Linked DNA regions of Homo sapiens. The protein of the gene in region 1 purifies or fractionates together with the protein of each later gene. This does not show direct contact. Each region holds a gene or a part of one and is shown in the gene's direction. Other genes may lie near its edges.

Region 1 (6,983 bases):
AATCCCAGCTACTCGGGAGGCTGAGGCACGAGAATCGCTTAAACCCAGGAGGTGGAGGTTACAGTGAGCTGAGATCGCGCCACTGCACTCCAACCTGGGCGACAGAGAGAGACTCTGTCTCAAAAAAAAAAAAAAAAAAAAAAAAGTTTAGTCGGGCTGGTGGATAAGGAGGAACAGTTTAGTCTCTATAATTTCTATCTCAAGACTGTCCCTAAAGAACTTATATATGACTTTGAACTGAAGATCTGATTTCCAACACCTTTCTACTCAGCCATAAAAACAGCAGCCCAAGTCCTTCCATAGAGACGGTATAAGACTATGATTAGGTTGGACACGGCATCTCACGCCTGTAATCCCAGCACTCTGGGAAGCAGACGTGGGTGGATCACTTGACCTCGGGAGTTTGAGACCAGCCTGGACAACATGGCAAAATCCCATCTCTACAAAAAATACAAAAATTGGCTCGGCATGGTGGCACACTCCAGTTGTCCTGACTACTGGGAAGGCTGAGATGGGAGGGTTGCTTGAGCCCGAGAAGTTGAGGCTGCAGTGAGCCATGATTGTGCCACTGTATGCCAGCCTTGGTGACAGAGCAAGACCCTGACTCCAAAAAAAAAAAAAATAGGCCAGGCGCGGTGGCTCACACCTGTAATCGCAGCACTTTGGGAGGCCCAGGTGGGCAGATCACGGGGTCAGGAGTTTGAGACCAGCCTGAACAACGTGGTGAAACCCCGTCTCTACTAAAAATACAAAAACTGGCCGGGCATAGTGGTGCACGCCTGTAATCCCAGCTCCTCAGGAGGCTGAGGCAGGAGAATAGCTTGAACCCGGGAGGCAGAGGTTGCAGTGAGCTGAGATCACGCCACTGCACTCCAGCCTGGGCGACAGAGAAAGACTTCATCTCAAAAAAAAAAAAAAGAAAAAAAAGAAAAGAATCACTTGAACCCAGCAGGCAGAAGTTGCAGTGAGCCGAGGTCATGCCACTGCACTCCAGTGTGGGCGTCAGAGTGAGACTCCATCTAAAAAAGCTTGCAAACTTGGGCTTAGAACCAACAGACCAGGTTCTAATCTTACTTTCACTACCACTTAGCTGACCTTCCATTCCCTCACCTGGAAAAAGATGAAAAAAACCACAATTCACGGGTCTAAAAATATGTGCGGCACATACTTCTCTATTGGAGTGGCAGGAGCACAGGCATGGGTTCTGAGAACCACGGACAAGTTATCACACCTCTGTGCCTTAGTCTCCTCATGTATAAAACGAAGCTATTGGCATTTTCCTCCTAGGGTCATTTTGAGAATTTAATTGTAAAGGGTCCCTTGGCTGGGTGCAGTGGCTCATGCCTGTAATCCCAGCACTTTGGGAGGCTGAGGCAGGCAGATCACTTGAGCCCAGGAGTTTGAGACCAGCCTGGCCAACTGGGAGAAACACCAACTCTACTAAAAATACAAGAACTAGCCAGATGGGGTGGCGCACGCCTGTAGTCCCAGCTACTTGGGAGGCTGAGGCACGAGAATCACTTGAACCCAAGAGGCAGAGGTTGCAGTGAGCCAACATCATGCCACTGCACTCCAGCCTGGACAACAGAGCAAGACTGTCTCAAAAAAAAAAAAAAAGAAAAGAAAAAGAAAAAGAAAAAACAGGGTCCCAATAAATAAAGTACTTGACACACAGAGTAGGTACTCAATTAATTAGTCCTATCCTAAGTCTGGACTCAGCTGTCTCCCTCATCACAGCAGGACTAGCACATCATGCAGACCAGGAGTCAGCCTTTTAGGAACCAATATCCAACCTTTGGGCTTCTCCCATCATTTCCAGGGAGGACAACATCATCTCACAACCCCAAGCCTCTCTAATCACAATCAATATGGTAAACATTTTTGTAATATATATTATGGACTGAACACCAGTAAAACGTTTCAAGGAATGTCTGCTTTAGGGTACTCACAGGCCAATGAAGATACAAAAACATGCACCATCAATATAGGACTTAATAAACATTAACGTGTACCAAGTGTCTACGGTATGCCACAGAGGAAGACTCACTCACCAAAGGGACTAAAGGAATGGCTTGTAGAGGTGGGCCTTGAAGAACGGGGGCAAGTGGGGGAGTGCCATAGCCCTTTTCAGAACAGCTGGGAATACAAATCTACTAATGCTGAGGGGACTGAATGCCAAGAGGTACATCCTAGCTCTTCCAACAGGGGCCACTACACTAAAACCCGAGGAAACTGGGTGGACACCAAGCATTAGCCCTCCAGGCCAGTGGTTCTCAAACAAGTTGGGGGGTTGGGGGAATCACACACACCCTCTGTGACATCTAGCAATGTCTAGAGACAGTTTTGATTGTCATGCCTGGGGAGCAGGGGTGCTACTGTTATCTAGCAGGTAGATGCCAGAGATGCTGTTAAACATCCTACAATGCACAGAGCACATCCCACAGCAAAGGATTATCTCGCTGGAAATGTCAATAGTGCCACTGTTGAGACACTCAGTCTCCAGGAAAGGTACTCAGTATGTGCTACTTCAGCAAGGGCAGCCTCTTAGGCTAGGATATCATTCAGCTAGAACATCTCTGGGGTGGAAGAATACAGCAGGATTCCAAATGGACATCTGAGGTGAGAGGAATCCACGGTGTATCGTTTAGAGTTGGGAAGACACAAAATAGAGGCTTTACCTGACCACCCTTTCTAAAGACACCACCTAAGTCACTTTATCACATCCACCTGTCTCATTTCCTGTATAGCACTTATGACAGCCTAAAACCATCTTATTTTCTCCTTATCTTCTTTCCCCTCTGGAATATAAGTTCCCTGTGAGCATGGAGTTGGTTTATTCTATTCTCCGCTGTTTCCACAACTTGCAACTGAATAACTCCTGATAAACAATAAGCATTCAACAAATTTGGTAAATTAGTTAATTTCGGCTTTTGACGGTTTCGGTGGTAGGAAAAGGGCGAGTTCGAGGCAACTACCTCTGACATAGCGGTGGGGGGTGGGGATCGACACCTCAAGCATTCTAAAGACTGGAGCGCTGGGTCTGAAATTCAAAAGTGCCGCCTCCAGAGAAGAGTAGAAAGGAGTTGGAGTGTACCAATGCGAGGCGAGAGAGGACGCTGGGCTGAAACAGAAGTGCACCGTTTGGGACCGAAGGCCACGGGAGAGCTACCAGCGTCCCCACATTCTCCGGAGGGGGTCAAGTAAGGCTGGGAAGCCGGCTCCGGCCGGTCCGGCGGGGAGCCGCGCGGCGGAGGACTGAGCTGGCGGGAAGCTGGTTCCAGACGCGACTCCTTTGGCGGGAGGGGGAAGTAGGCGGGGTAACTGGCAGCTCGGCCTGTACCACTGGGCCGGGGCGGGGGCCGCGCAGGAAGCGGCAAGTGACACCTGGAAGGGGTTCGAGTTAGAGCACCCGCGCGGGGAGAGTGGGTTCGAGCAGAACCCCCTCTGGACGGGCAAGGAACCCGTAAGGGTCCGCGACGTTTCAGGTTACATGGGCTGGGTTGTACTACTCCGGCACCGGATAAGGGGTCCAGGCCGGGACGTGCGCAGGGCCGCGGCCAGGTTTATCTCACCAGAGCCATTGGGTCCAATGATGGCGGTGAACCTCTGAAATGGTCCGATAATCTGTCGACCCTTGTACGACTTAAAGTTCTCAATCTCAATCAGTTTCAGGAACCCCATGACGGCCGCGGCGCCGGCGGCAGTAGGACAGGCCGCGCCGTACGCCCGAGAACTGAGGTAGCCCGCGCGGGAAACGCCGCAGTGCAAGCCGGGCGACCGGCAAATGTCGCGAGAATACGTCCAGGCCTAACGGGATTTTCGCCTTCCGGCAGGAGTGGGACCAGGGGCGGGGACTGATGTTGCGTATACGAGGAGCGAGCTGACGACTGGCGTGGTGCCTCCGCCCCCCTTTCTTGTTGCATGGCAACAACAAACACTTGCTCCTGCGGACCAGATCCCCGGAGGAGTTGTTGCTGGGCGGAGTCAGAGCAGTTCTTGAGGTTCAAGGAGGCGGGGGAGACCTGAGCTCACGCTTGCTGAGACAGAAGTCACAGCAGGATTATGCCCCTCAGGGCAAGAGGAAGGTGGGAGCTCGGCTGTGGCTTTAGCCTGGCCAGCTTTCAAGGCTAGGACAAGGACAGGGTCGGGAATTGGAAGGACCCGGGGGGAGCGGAGAGCTGGACGGGAAGGAGGGGCCAACGGGAGGATTCAGTGTTAGGTGAGCTCAGACTTTGCTAATGGTGGGGTGGGATTGGTGGCGGGACGGGTTGCGAAGGCGGACGGGTTGTGAATGGGACTGGGGCTACTCCCAGGCAACAGGGATACAGGCTGGGGAAGGCTACGGCCTGAGATACTACCCCTATCCCCTGCCTCCCTCCTGTTGTACCAAGCAGAGTTCAGAAACTGCCGCCGTAACCCAAGAACAAAGTTGCATGCAGAGCCAACCTAAGAGCTTCAAAATCGGGATTCCTTACTGAGAAAGGTATTTTGTGTGAACCCCCAGGAGTCAGGGTCCCTAAGCCAGCGCTCTCCACCTCCACCTACCTCTGCCTCCATGCCTCTCCCCCATCCCATTCCCACAGCTCTATACCACAATGCCACCTTACCTCTCTTCCCTCTCTGCTCTCTATCATTAATAAGGCAGGGGCCTTAGCAATCCAAGAAGCTTAAAATGTCAGCTGAATCTTCCCCTTCAGTGACCTTATACTGTAATGGCAGGTGAAACCAGTAGGTAAGTTGGTGCCATTCTCAGACTTAAACATGGAAAGGATCTGGTGGTTGCCATAATTATTCCTTTAACTATTTATTAAATTATGTCCGAAGGCTAGAAAGAGTCCTAAAGACTTAGGACAAGTCCAGGAAAGTGAGGAAGTGGCTGGGCATGGTGGCTGACAACTGTAATCCCATCGTGAGGGAGGCAGGCCAAGGCAGGAGGATCACTTGAGACCAGCAGTTCAAGACCAGCCTGGGCAACATAGTGAGACCCTATCTCTACTAAAAATTAAAAAATTAGCTGGGTGTGGCAGCTCTCACCTCTGGTCTACCCAGGATGCCGAAGCAGGAGGATCACTTGAGCCTGGGAGGTTGAGGCTGTAGTGAGTGGTGTCCGCACCACTTCACTCCAGCCTAGGTGACAGAGCAATACCCTGTCTCAAAAATAAATAAAGGGAGGAAGCTTGGTAGATGGAATCTAGTAGGGGAGCCATAAATGAAGTTCAGCTGGGAGAAACAATCAGGCTGAGGGGATAAAATGGCTAAAAGACAGCAATCTCATGTAATCCATGGGGAAATACTGTTCCCTTTTAAAAGATGAGATGGTGAGCCTGGGTAACATAGCAAAACCCAATCTCTACAAAAAAATTTTAAAAATTAGGCAGGCATGGTGGCACACACCTGTAGTCCCAGCTACTCAGGAGGCTGGGGCAGGAAGATCCTTTGAGCCCAGGAGTTTGAGGCTGCAGTGAGCCATGATTGCACCACTACACTCCATCCTGGGCAACAGAGAGAGACCCCATCTAAAACAAATTAAAAATAAAATAAATTTTATTCTCTGCCTCAGCCTTCCAAGTAGCTAGGATTACAGGTGCCCACTGCCACGCCTGGCTAATTTTTTTGTATTTTTAGTAAAGACAGGGTTTCACTATGTTGGCCAGGCTGGTCTTGAACTCCTGACCTCCTGATCCACCTGCCTCGGCCTCCCAAAGTGCTGGGATTACAGGCGTGAGCCACCGCGCCCGGCCAAAAATAAAATAAAATTTTAAATTTAAAAAAGATGAGATGGCACTTGGGGGGAAAATTAAATTGGATCCTTATCTCACACCATACACAAAATGCAACTCCAAGTGGATTAAAAACCTAAGTGACGCCGGGCACAATGGCTCATGCCTGTAATACCAGCACTTTGGGAGGCCGAGGCAGGAGAATTGCTTGAGTTCAAGACTAGCTTGGGCAATATAGTGAGACCCCATCTATATTAAAAAAAATTAAATGGGGCCAGGTGTGGTGGCTCATGCCTGTAATCCCAGCACTTTGGGAGGCCAAGGAGGGTGGATCATAAGGTCAGGAGATTGAGACTATCCTGGCTAACACTGTGAAACCCCATCTCTACTAAAAATACAAAAATCAGCCGGGCATATATGTTCAACTACTTCACAGTTACAAAATGGAAAACAAAACAAAACACCAAAAAGATCCAAATAGCTATAGGAGGAATTAAAGAATCACGCTCCAAACAAAGGAACAGCACATACAAAGGCCCCGGGGTGGGAACAATTACTGTGTTGGAGGACTTGATCAGCTTGCCTGGAGCACTGTAAGCAAGGGAGACAGTGGTTTGAGACAAATTGGAGAGGTGTGCAGGAACTAGATCTTGAAAGCCCACAGTAAGGAGTTTGGATCTGATTCTAAGTATAGTGGGAAGCTAGTGGAGGATTTAAGCAGGTGAGAGACATGATCAGATTTATGTTTGCTAAAGTTTTTTTGGCTGCAGCTTTGGCTGGGTTACATGCCAAAAGTGAGCTTCCCAAAATATGAAGGAACACAGGCAAATTTAGCTTTCTAGCCTTTCATTTGACCAGAAAATAAGTAATAAAAGTAAAAAAAAAAAAAAAAAAAAAAAAAAGGGTGGGGGGACATATATTTCAGAAAAGAAAGCTGCTTCTGGTTTCTGTGATTGGGCTATAGGAGTCAATAGAGGAAGCTGGAATACCAACATGGAGACAGTTGTGGTTATTCAGGAAGCTGGCAATGGTGGCTTGGATAAGGGTTATTTTGAAAGAAGAAGGAGTGAGGGAAAGGAAGGATTAAAGGATGTCTCCTAGGTTTTTGACCGGAGCAACTTGGTGAATGGTGGTGCCACTTACTGAAATAAGGAAAACTGAATAGAGTATAATGAAAAAGGAGTGTTGTAGATGTGTTTGAGGCTTAGAAAGGTGAGCAGGGGTCAGATCATGAAGAACCTTATAAATCTGGCAAAGGGGGTT
Region 2 (7,030 bases), on another chromosome or scaffold:
AGGTCTGCAGCCACCCCAGCTCATACCTCTCTGCCTCCCCGCTCTCAAGGAGGGTCTGCCGCATGTGATGAAAGTGTCTACTCTCAGGGAAAGCTCAGCCATGGCTTCCCCACTGCCCCGGGAGATGGAGGAGGAGCTGGTGCCTACTGGCTCTGAGCCAGGTACCAATGGGTGCAGGGTGGAGCCAGGTGGCTGGGAGGGGGGTGGGAAGGACAGAGGCTGCCCCCTCTTTCTGTCTTGGGGGGTGGTTGAGTGATGATTCTGTTGAGATAGGGAAGGAGTACCAAGGCAGTACAGGATGAGTTTGAAAGGTTCTCAGCTTCTCTTGAGACTCTTCAGAACTGTTTGGGATCATAAATCTCCAACAGGTGTAAGAGCAGACAGGGACCTTTGAGATGATATGGATCAAGCTGCATGCTTTGCAGAGGGGAAAACTGAGGCCCACAGGGAAAAATGGAGTGTACAAGTGGGAGTTTGAACCCAGACCTCCTGGCTCCTTGTGTAGACTCTTTTCTTCTATTTAGCCAAATGTGTAGGAGGTACGGGATTCCATCAGGAGGACTGTGGACGAGGGTACTTCCAAGGTCATTTAGCTTTATATAGAAGGTAGATTTCTGGTCCTGTTTTTTTTTTTCTTCCCATAGCAGATTTACTTTTGTTTGACTTGGGTCAATAGTAAGTTTGCATTCCCAGTCACACACCAGATGACAGTGGGGAGGTGGCCTGGGAGTGTGCTGTGGGTGGGGGAGGAGGCAGCCTGGAGGCAGGATAGAGAAGCTCAGCTGAGATTGAAAGTTTACTATGGATGATAGAGAAGAGTGTCACATAAGGTGAAAAAACTAGATTGGGAATATGGGGGGGCTGACTGCTTGATAGGGACAGGCAGGCATTTGTTTATTGGCTCATTTGTTCATTCATTCTTTTGTTTAATTATAACTTATGCTAGGGGCAAAATACAGTACAGGAAGAAGTAAGGTGCCAGGTGGGTCCTTAAATAGCTTCAGCTTAAAAGGGGAATTGGCTAAAACATTTTGGGAGTTTGAAGAAGGGAGAAGATGCTTTGGGGATGTGTGTAGAAAATCAAGGAAGGCTTCATGGAAGAGGTGGCATATGACTTGTGCCTAGAAAGATGTGAATATTCTTAAATCGGAGGGTGGGAGATGAGGTGGAACAGGAAACAAAGAAGTTCTGCTTCCTGGTTCTTCTGACAGCTCCCCCACCAACCCTTTCCTTTTGGTAGGTGACACTCGGGCCAAACCCCCTGTCAAGCCCAAACCCCGGGCCCTGCCTGCCAAGCCAGCCCTGCCTGCCAAACCCAGCCTGCTGGTGCCTGTTGGGCCTCGGCCTCCCCGGGGTCCCCTGGCTGAGTTGCCTTCTGCCAGGAAGATGAACATGCTGGCAGGACCCCAGCCCTATGGTGGCAGCAAGCGCCCCCTTCCCTTTGCACCAAGGCCTGCGGTTGAGGCCTCCACTGGAGGAGAAGCCACCCAAGAGACTGGGAAAGAGGAGGCTGGGAAAGAGGAGCCACCCCCTTTGACACCCCCAGCTCGATGTGCAGCCCCAGGGGGTGTACGGAAGGCCCCTGCCCCTTTCCGCCCAGCCTCAGAGCGCTTCGCGGCCACCACGGTGGAAGAGATCCTGGCCAAGATGGAGCAGCCTCGGAAGGAGGTCCTTGCCAGCCCCGACCGCCTGTGGGGTTCCCGCCTCACCTTTAACCACGATGGCAGCTCGCGATATGGCCCCAGGACCTATGGCACGACCACTGCTCCCAGGGATGAGGATGGCAGCACCCTCTTCAGGGGATGGTCCCAGGAGGGGCCAGTAAAGTCTCCAGCAGAGTGCCGGGAAGAGCACAGCAAGACCCCTGAGGAGAGGTGAAGGGTGGGAGGTTGTATATTTTGTGGCAGCCTGGAGGTCAGGTGGGGTGGGATTGGGTGGGGGCTGGGGACCAAGTGCATGGCCCCATATAGGGTTGTGACTTTTACCTGTAGGTTGGTTGTGTGCTGTGAGTACAGGCAGATCCCGATCTAGGTCACAAATCATTCCCCAGCAGATGGTGTTATCATTACTGTATGCTTTTAAAGTTGTAGTTTTCTTTACAGAGTTGATGCAGGTTTATGTTAGAGAGTTCAAATGTACAGTATAGAAGTTTAATAGACAATAGACTTTTTTTTTTTTTTTTTTTGAGATGGTGTTTTGCTCTTGTCACCCAGGCTGGAGTGCAGTGGTGCGATCTCGGCTCACTGCAACCTCTGCCTCCCAGGTTCAAGTGATTCTCCTTCCTCAGCCTCCTGAGTAGCTGGGATTACAGGCGTGGGCCACCACGCCCAGCTAATTTTTTTGTATTTTTAGTAGAGTTGGGGTTTCACCCTGTTGGCCAGGCTGGTCTTGAACTCCTGACCTCAGGTGATCTGCCTGCTTCGGCCTCCCAAAGTGCTGAGATTACAGGCATGAGCCACCACGCCCGGCCAAGAAGTTTAGTTTCTATATACTGAGAGCTGGGCACCAAACTTTGCCTCGTTGGCATCCTGTTTGTTCAAGGGAGTATTAGATCCATTGTAGAGATGAGGAAACTGAGGCTCAAAAATGACTCCATAGTCTCGGCAAGTTAAGAGGCAGAGACAGATGTTTGTTTGATTCCAAATCCTCTGCTCTTAAGTGCCAGCTCTTACAGTGGTCAGAGCAGTGTGCCAGTCCTGGGGTGGGGCTGCGTGTGTCAGGATGAGTAGGGCACAGTCTCTGCCTGTGAGGTGGAATCTGATGGGAGAGGTAAGAGAGGAACACATCTTTTTTTTTTTTTTTTTTTTTGAGACGGAGTCTCGCTCTGTCATCCAGGCTGGAGTGCAGTGGCGCAATCTCGGCTCACTGCAAGCTCCACCTCCTGGGTTCACGCCATTCTCCTGTCTCAGCCTCCCGAGTAGCTGGGACTACAGGCGCCTGCCACCACACCCGGATAATTTTTTTGTATTTTTAGTAGAGATGGGGTTTCACTGTGTTAGCCAGGATGGTCTCGATCTCCTGACCTCGTGATCTGCCTGCCTCGGCCTCCCAAAGTGCTGGGATTACAGGCGTGAGCCACTGCGCCCTGCGAGAGGAACACATCTTGATGCCAGGCCAGCTAGTGTCTGCACAGAGATTTTGGCTGGTTGGAGATATTTGCATATGATACGCTTCTCCAGAGTTGCCACTAGTGTAAAGCAAGGCTGGCCAGGAGGTGCTTCTTGGGGTGCTGGGCACGGGACTTTGGAGGAAGAGGCTGAGGCATCTCAGGAGCCATCAGCTGCACAGAGGCTGTCCTTAGTGCTGGGAGAGCCAGCTTGAGGTATGGCTGGCTCCTTGGGCCTTTAACAGCTCTGCTGGGCTCAGAGGCTCCCTTTCTCTTCCTACTGCTATGAAGGCAAGAGCTGGTGTGGTCTGGGCTAAGCGGGAAGCTGAGGGTCCCTGCCCTGCCCTGCCCTCTGGCCTTGCCCTTCTCTCACCTGAAAGTGTCTGGAGCCTTGGCCCCAGAGCTAGTCCTTTGCCTGTCCCAGACCAGGGTGCTGTGAGGTCACACTCTTGCCCAGGCTGGGTTCCACCCGCCATCTTCCTTCTCTCCCTCACTCCAAGTAGGGCTTAAGAACAACTTCAACCCTGGAAAATCACTCTTTCCTCTTCCCCTCCCCCACTGCAATTCTTCAAGAAGTATTGGCAGGGCAGCAGGACCAGCTGCACTCTTCCTGGCTAGAGGAGAACTTTAACTCCTTATGGGTTAAAGGAAAGAGGAGTTATCTTTTTAGGAGCTGTTGAGAGGTCTGGGCATCCAGGATGCTTTTCCTAAAGTAGCTGGGGAATTTAACCCTTCATGCTCAGGTAGGGAATAAGCACTGTTTTCTGGGGCACTTGCCGAATGGAAAATGGACAGATTCTGTGTCCCTAATAGTTGCAGGCAGGGCTCAAGAGTAAATGGCTAGGAGGGTTTAACCTTTGGGTGCTGTTAAAGTTGCACTGGGAGACTCTCCCACATTTTCCATTCTGTGACAGACTCTAACATTCCGTGCTTCCATTTCCTGTCCTCGTCCCTCACAGGAGCCTTCCTTCCGACCTGGCCTTCAACGGGGACCTGGCTAAGGCAGCCAGCTCGGAGCTACCTGCTGATGTGAGTTATCCTCCAGTTATGAATCAGAATCACGTATTTTAGAGCTGGAAGGGTCATATGAGATCATCTTTTCTACTCCTTGTAGTTCAGATGGGGAAACTGAGGCCCATGGGGAGAGTGACTCACTGGAGGGCTGGCCCTGGGATTTTTCGACTCCTGGGCCAGTGCTCTTGATCACCAAAGTGGCTAGGTGTGGTTAAGGCCATGAGGCCATTCATCATAAACAGTAATGATAGTATCCACAACAACTGCCATTGATTAAGTCCCTACTATGTGCTGGGCCTGTCCTGGGAACGTTAACCAACTCAATCCTTGTGATAACTCTGGCTAGTAGACCTGGTTAGTCCCATGTGAGAGATGAGAGCACCTGTACTCACAAAGGGTAAGTAACTTAGGCTGAGGCAGCAGCTACTGTGTCTGCCTCCCATGCTTTCCCTGGCTGGGCTGCCTTTTCTGAGTTCAGAAGAGGGGTGAGTCCTTTTGCTGAGATTTTCCCATCATACTCCCGTTCTTGAAGATGGTCAGCCTGCTTTCTTGAGTAAACAAGGTACAGGATGGCCCTTTTTGCTCATACAGCCCTTGCTAGCTGGAGATCTGACTTGATTCATTTGTCCATCCAGCAAGCAGTGACTGAGCGCCTGTTAGGAGCTGGATGTTGGAGATAGCTGTGAAGGTAGAGTAGAGAGTGCAGGGACGAGTGTGGTCAGGGAAGGTGTCACTGTGAAGGGCAGAGGCTGAGCTGTGTGCATGTCTGGAGAGCAGCATTCTTGGTAGAGGGCACAGCAAGTACAAAGGCATTGGTGCTTTCCTGGCAAGGAGGCCAGGATGTCTGCCTGGCAGTGAGAGAGGAGTTAGGTGGTAGTGAGGACCAACGGGTTGGGGGGTTGGATTGTGTCAAGTCTCGAAGGCCTCTAGAAAGACTTTGGCTTCAGTGAGAGCAACAGGCCATTTGAAGGGTTTGCAGGAGAGGCATGGGATGCTGCTGTCTTAGTTGTGAAGAGTCACCTGGCCCACTGGATTAAGAATCAGTTGCAGGGAGGTAAGATCAGCAGCATGGACCAGTCAGGGGGCTGTTGGAATAGTCCAAGTGAGAGATGATGACGGCTTGGACCCTGGAGGTAGCCTACGGTGGAGATGGGGAGAAGTGGTTGGTTCTGGATAGAATTTGAAGGCATGGTGGAAAGGACTTTCAGATAGATAGAGAGCACAGAATCAAGGGTGACCCCACGGCTTTTGGCCTGAGCAACCGGAAGGATGAGTTTATGGTTGCCGAGACGGGGACTTCTAAGGGTGAAGCAGGATCGGGGGAGATGGGAGGAGTTTGCTTTGTGGATTTGTTGAATTTGAGATGGTTTTCAGACATCCATGTGGAAACGTCAAGCGGATGGTTGGGTAGTCGAGTCTGGCCTTCAAGGGAAGTGAGCAAATTTGAAAGGAACACTTGGGAATTGTCAGAGTAGGAATGCTTGTGAAGACTGGCTGAGATTACTGAGAGTGGGGATGGTGCAGGAGGGGAGGGCCCAGAGGCACAGCCAAGGAGACTGGGAGGACAGTGAGAGAGTCCACCAAGTGGAGACAGCCTCCAGGACTGGGGGAGGGCGCCATCAGCTGTCAGATGCCACTGACAGGTCAAGTAAGATGAGCACAGAGAATTGGATTCAGCTCCAGGGAGGTCATCCGTGACCTTGACGAGAGTAGTTAGGTGGCAAGGTAAAGGAGAAAGCCTGTTTGGAGTGGTTTCAAGAGAGAAGGGGACAAGAAGAACTGTGGATATTAATAGTGAATATAGACAGGGCTTTCAAGAAAATGGATGGTAGCTAGTGAGTGATGTGGGGTCAAGAGTGGTTTTTTGGTTTGCTTTTTTGGCTTTTCAAGACAGAAGAAATTAGAGCAGTTTGTGTGCTGATGGAAATGATCCAGTAGAGAGGGAAAAAAAAATCGATGCAGGAGAGAGAGGAGGGATTGACCTCAGCCCCAAGCGAGGACAGTGCCTGATAGCAGAAGGGGAGGCAGAGTGCTTGGGCTCCCATGCAGGAAGTAGGTGGTGTGTGTGTGTGTGGCGGTGGGGGGGTTGTCGGGGGTTCTCTGCTGGTGGCCTCTGTGTTCTCAGGGAACAGGAAGCAAGGCCATCAGCTGAGAGAGGATTGGGGGAGGTGTGGAGGTCTGACGGGAGAAGATGCTAAAACATTGCCTGGGAGAGTCATGGAGTGAATGGCAGGGGGAGTGCCGTGGGATTCTGGGCAGCTCTAGGGCCGGCTTGAGGTCAGCAGTGAATCTGGAGTGAGACCAGCTGTCACGATTGTGTGTTTTTATCCAGCCACATGCAGCTACTCAGGTGCTGGGCTAGGATTGGCCCAGCTGTATTGGAGAGCTGTATTTAAACAGGTTAAACAGTATGATGAAGCAGATGAGGGAGTTGAGTGTTGAGTAAAAAGTGACGTTAATGGTGATAAGAAGAGAGGTGAGGGTATGAGGGGAGTGGGGGACAATGAGAAAGAATTAGGGTTAAGGGGCTGTGCTATGAGAGGGGCTGAAAATAAGGGCGTTGGGGAAATAGAGTGAGCCGGTCAGATAGGCGGTGGGGGTGGGCAAGTGGGATACTTGGGATTGAGATGATGCAGAGGTTGCAGCCACTGGTAAGGATGAGGTCTAGGGTGTGACCTTGAGAGGATGGGTCGCACAGTCACTGAGGAAGAGGAGGTCAACGAACCAGAGGCTGGAAGGGTCGCATCTGGCTATGGAGATGACTGTAAGCTATCACAACAATGATGGAGAGGGTTGCAGTGATGCAGCGGTTATGGTTTTCAAGGAATGATGGGTGCGTAAGGGTCAATAACAAGAAAGAATTGTGGGTGCTGTAGTTTAAGGGCACGAGCTTTGACATTAGAACGTTGC

Evidence for each region.
Region 2: the proteins of RIBC1 (region 1) and TNKS1BP1 purify together in Homo sapiens (co-immunoprecipitation; 3 studies listed by BioGRID and IntAct, with this or other methods). This does not show direct contact.

Annotation. Positions count from the first base shown.
Region 1 is NC_000023.11:53,418,920-53,425,902, forward strand, and holds the start of RIBC1 (RIB43A-like with coiled-coils protein 1), read left to right. Parts: upstream 1-3,953; 5' UTR 3,954-4,085; exon of another isoform or gene 4,086-4,219; intron 4,220-4,394; 5' UTR 4,395-4,483; intron 4,484-6,983. Other genes in the region: SMC1A (structural maintenance of chromosomes protein 1A), read right to left, coding at 3,573-3,681.
Region 2 is NC_000011.10:57,314,923-57,321,952, reverse strand, and holds part of TNKS1BP1 (182 kDa tankyrase-1-binding protein), read left to right. Parts: intron 1-2; 5' UTR 3-67; coding exon 68-161; intron 162-1,240; coding exon 1,241-1,874; intron 1,875-4,065; coding exon 4,066-4,135; intron 4,136-7,030.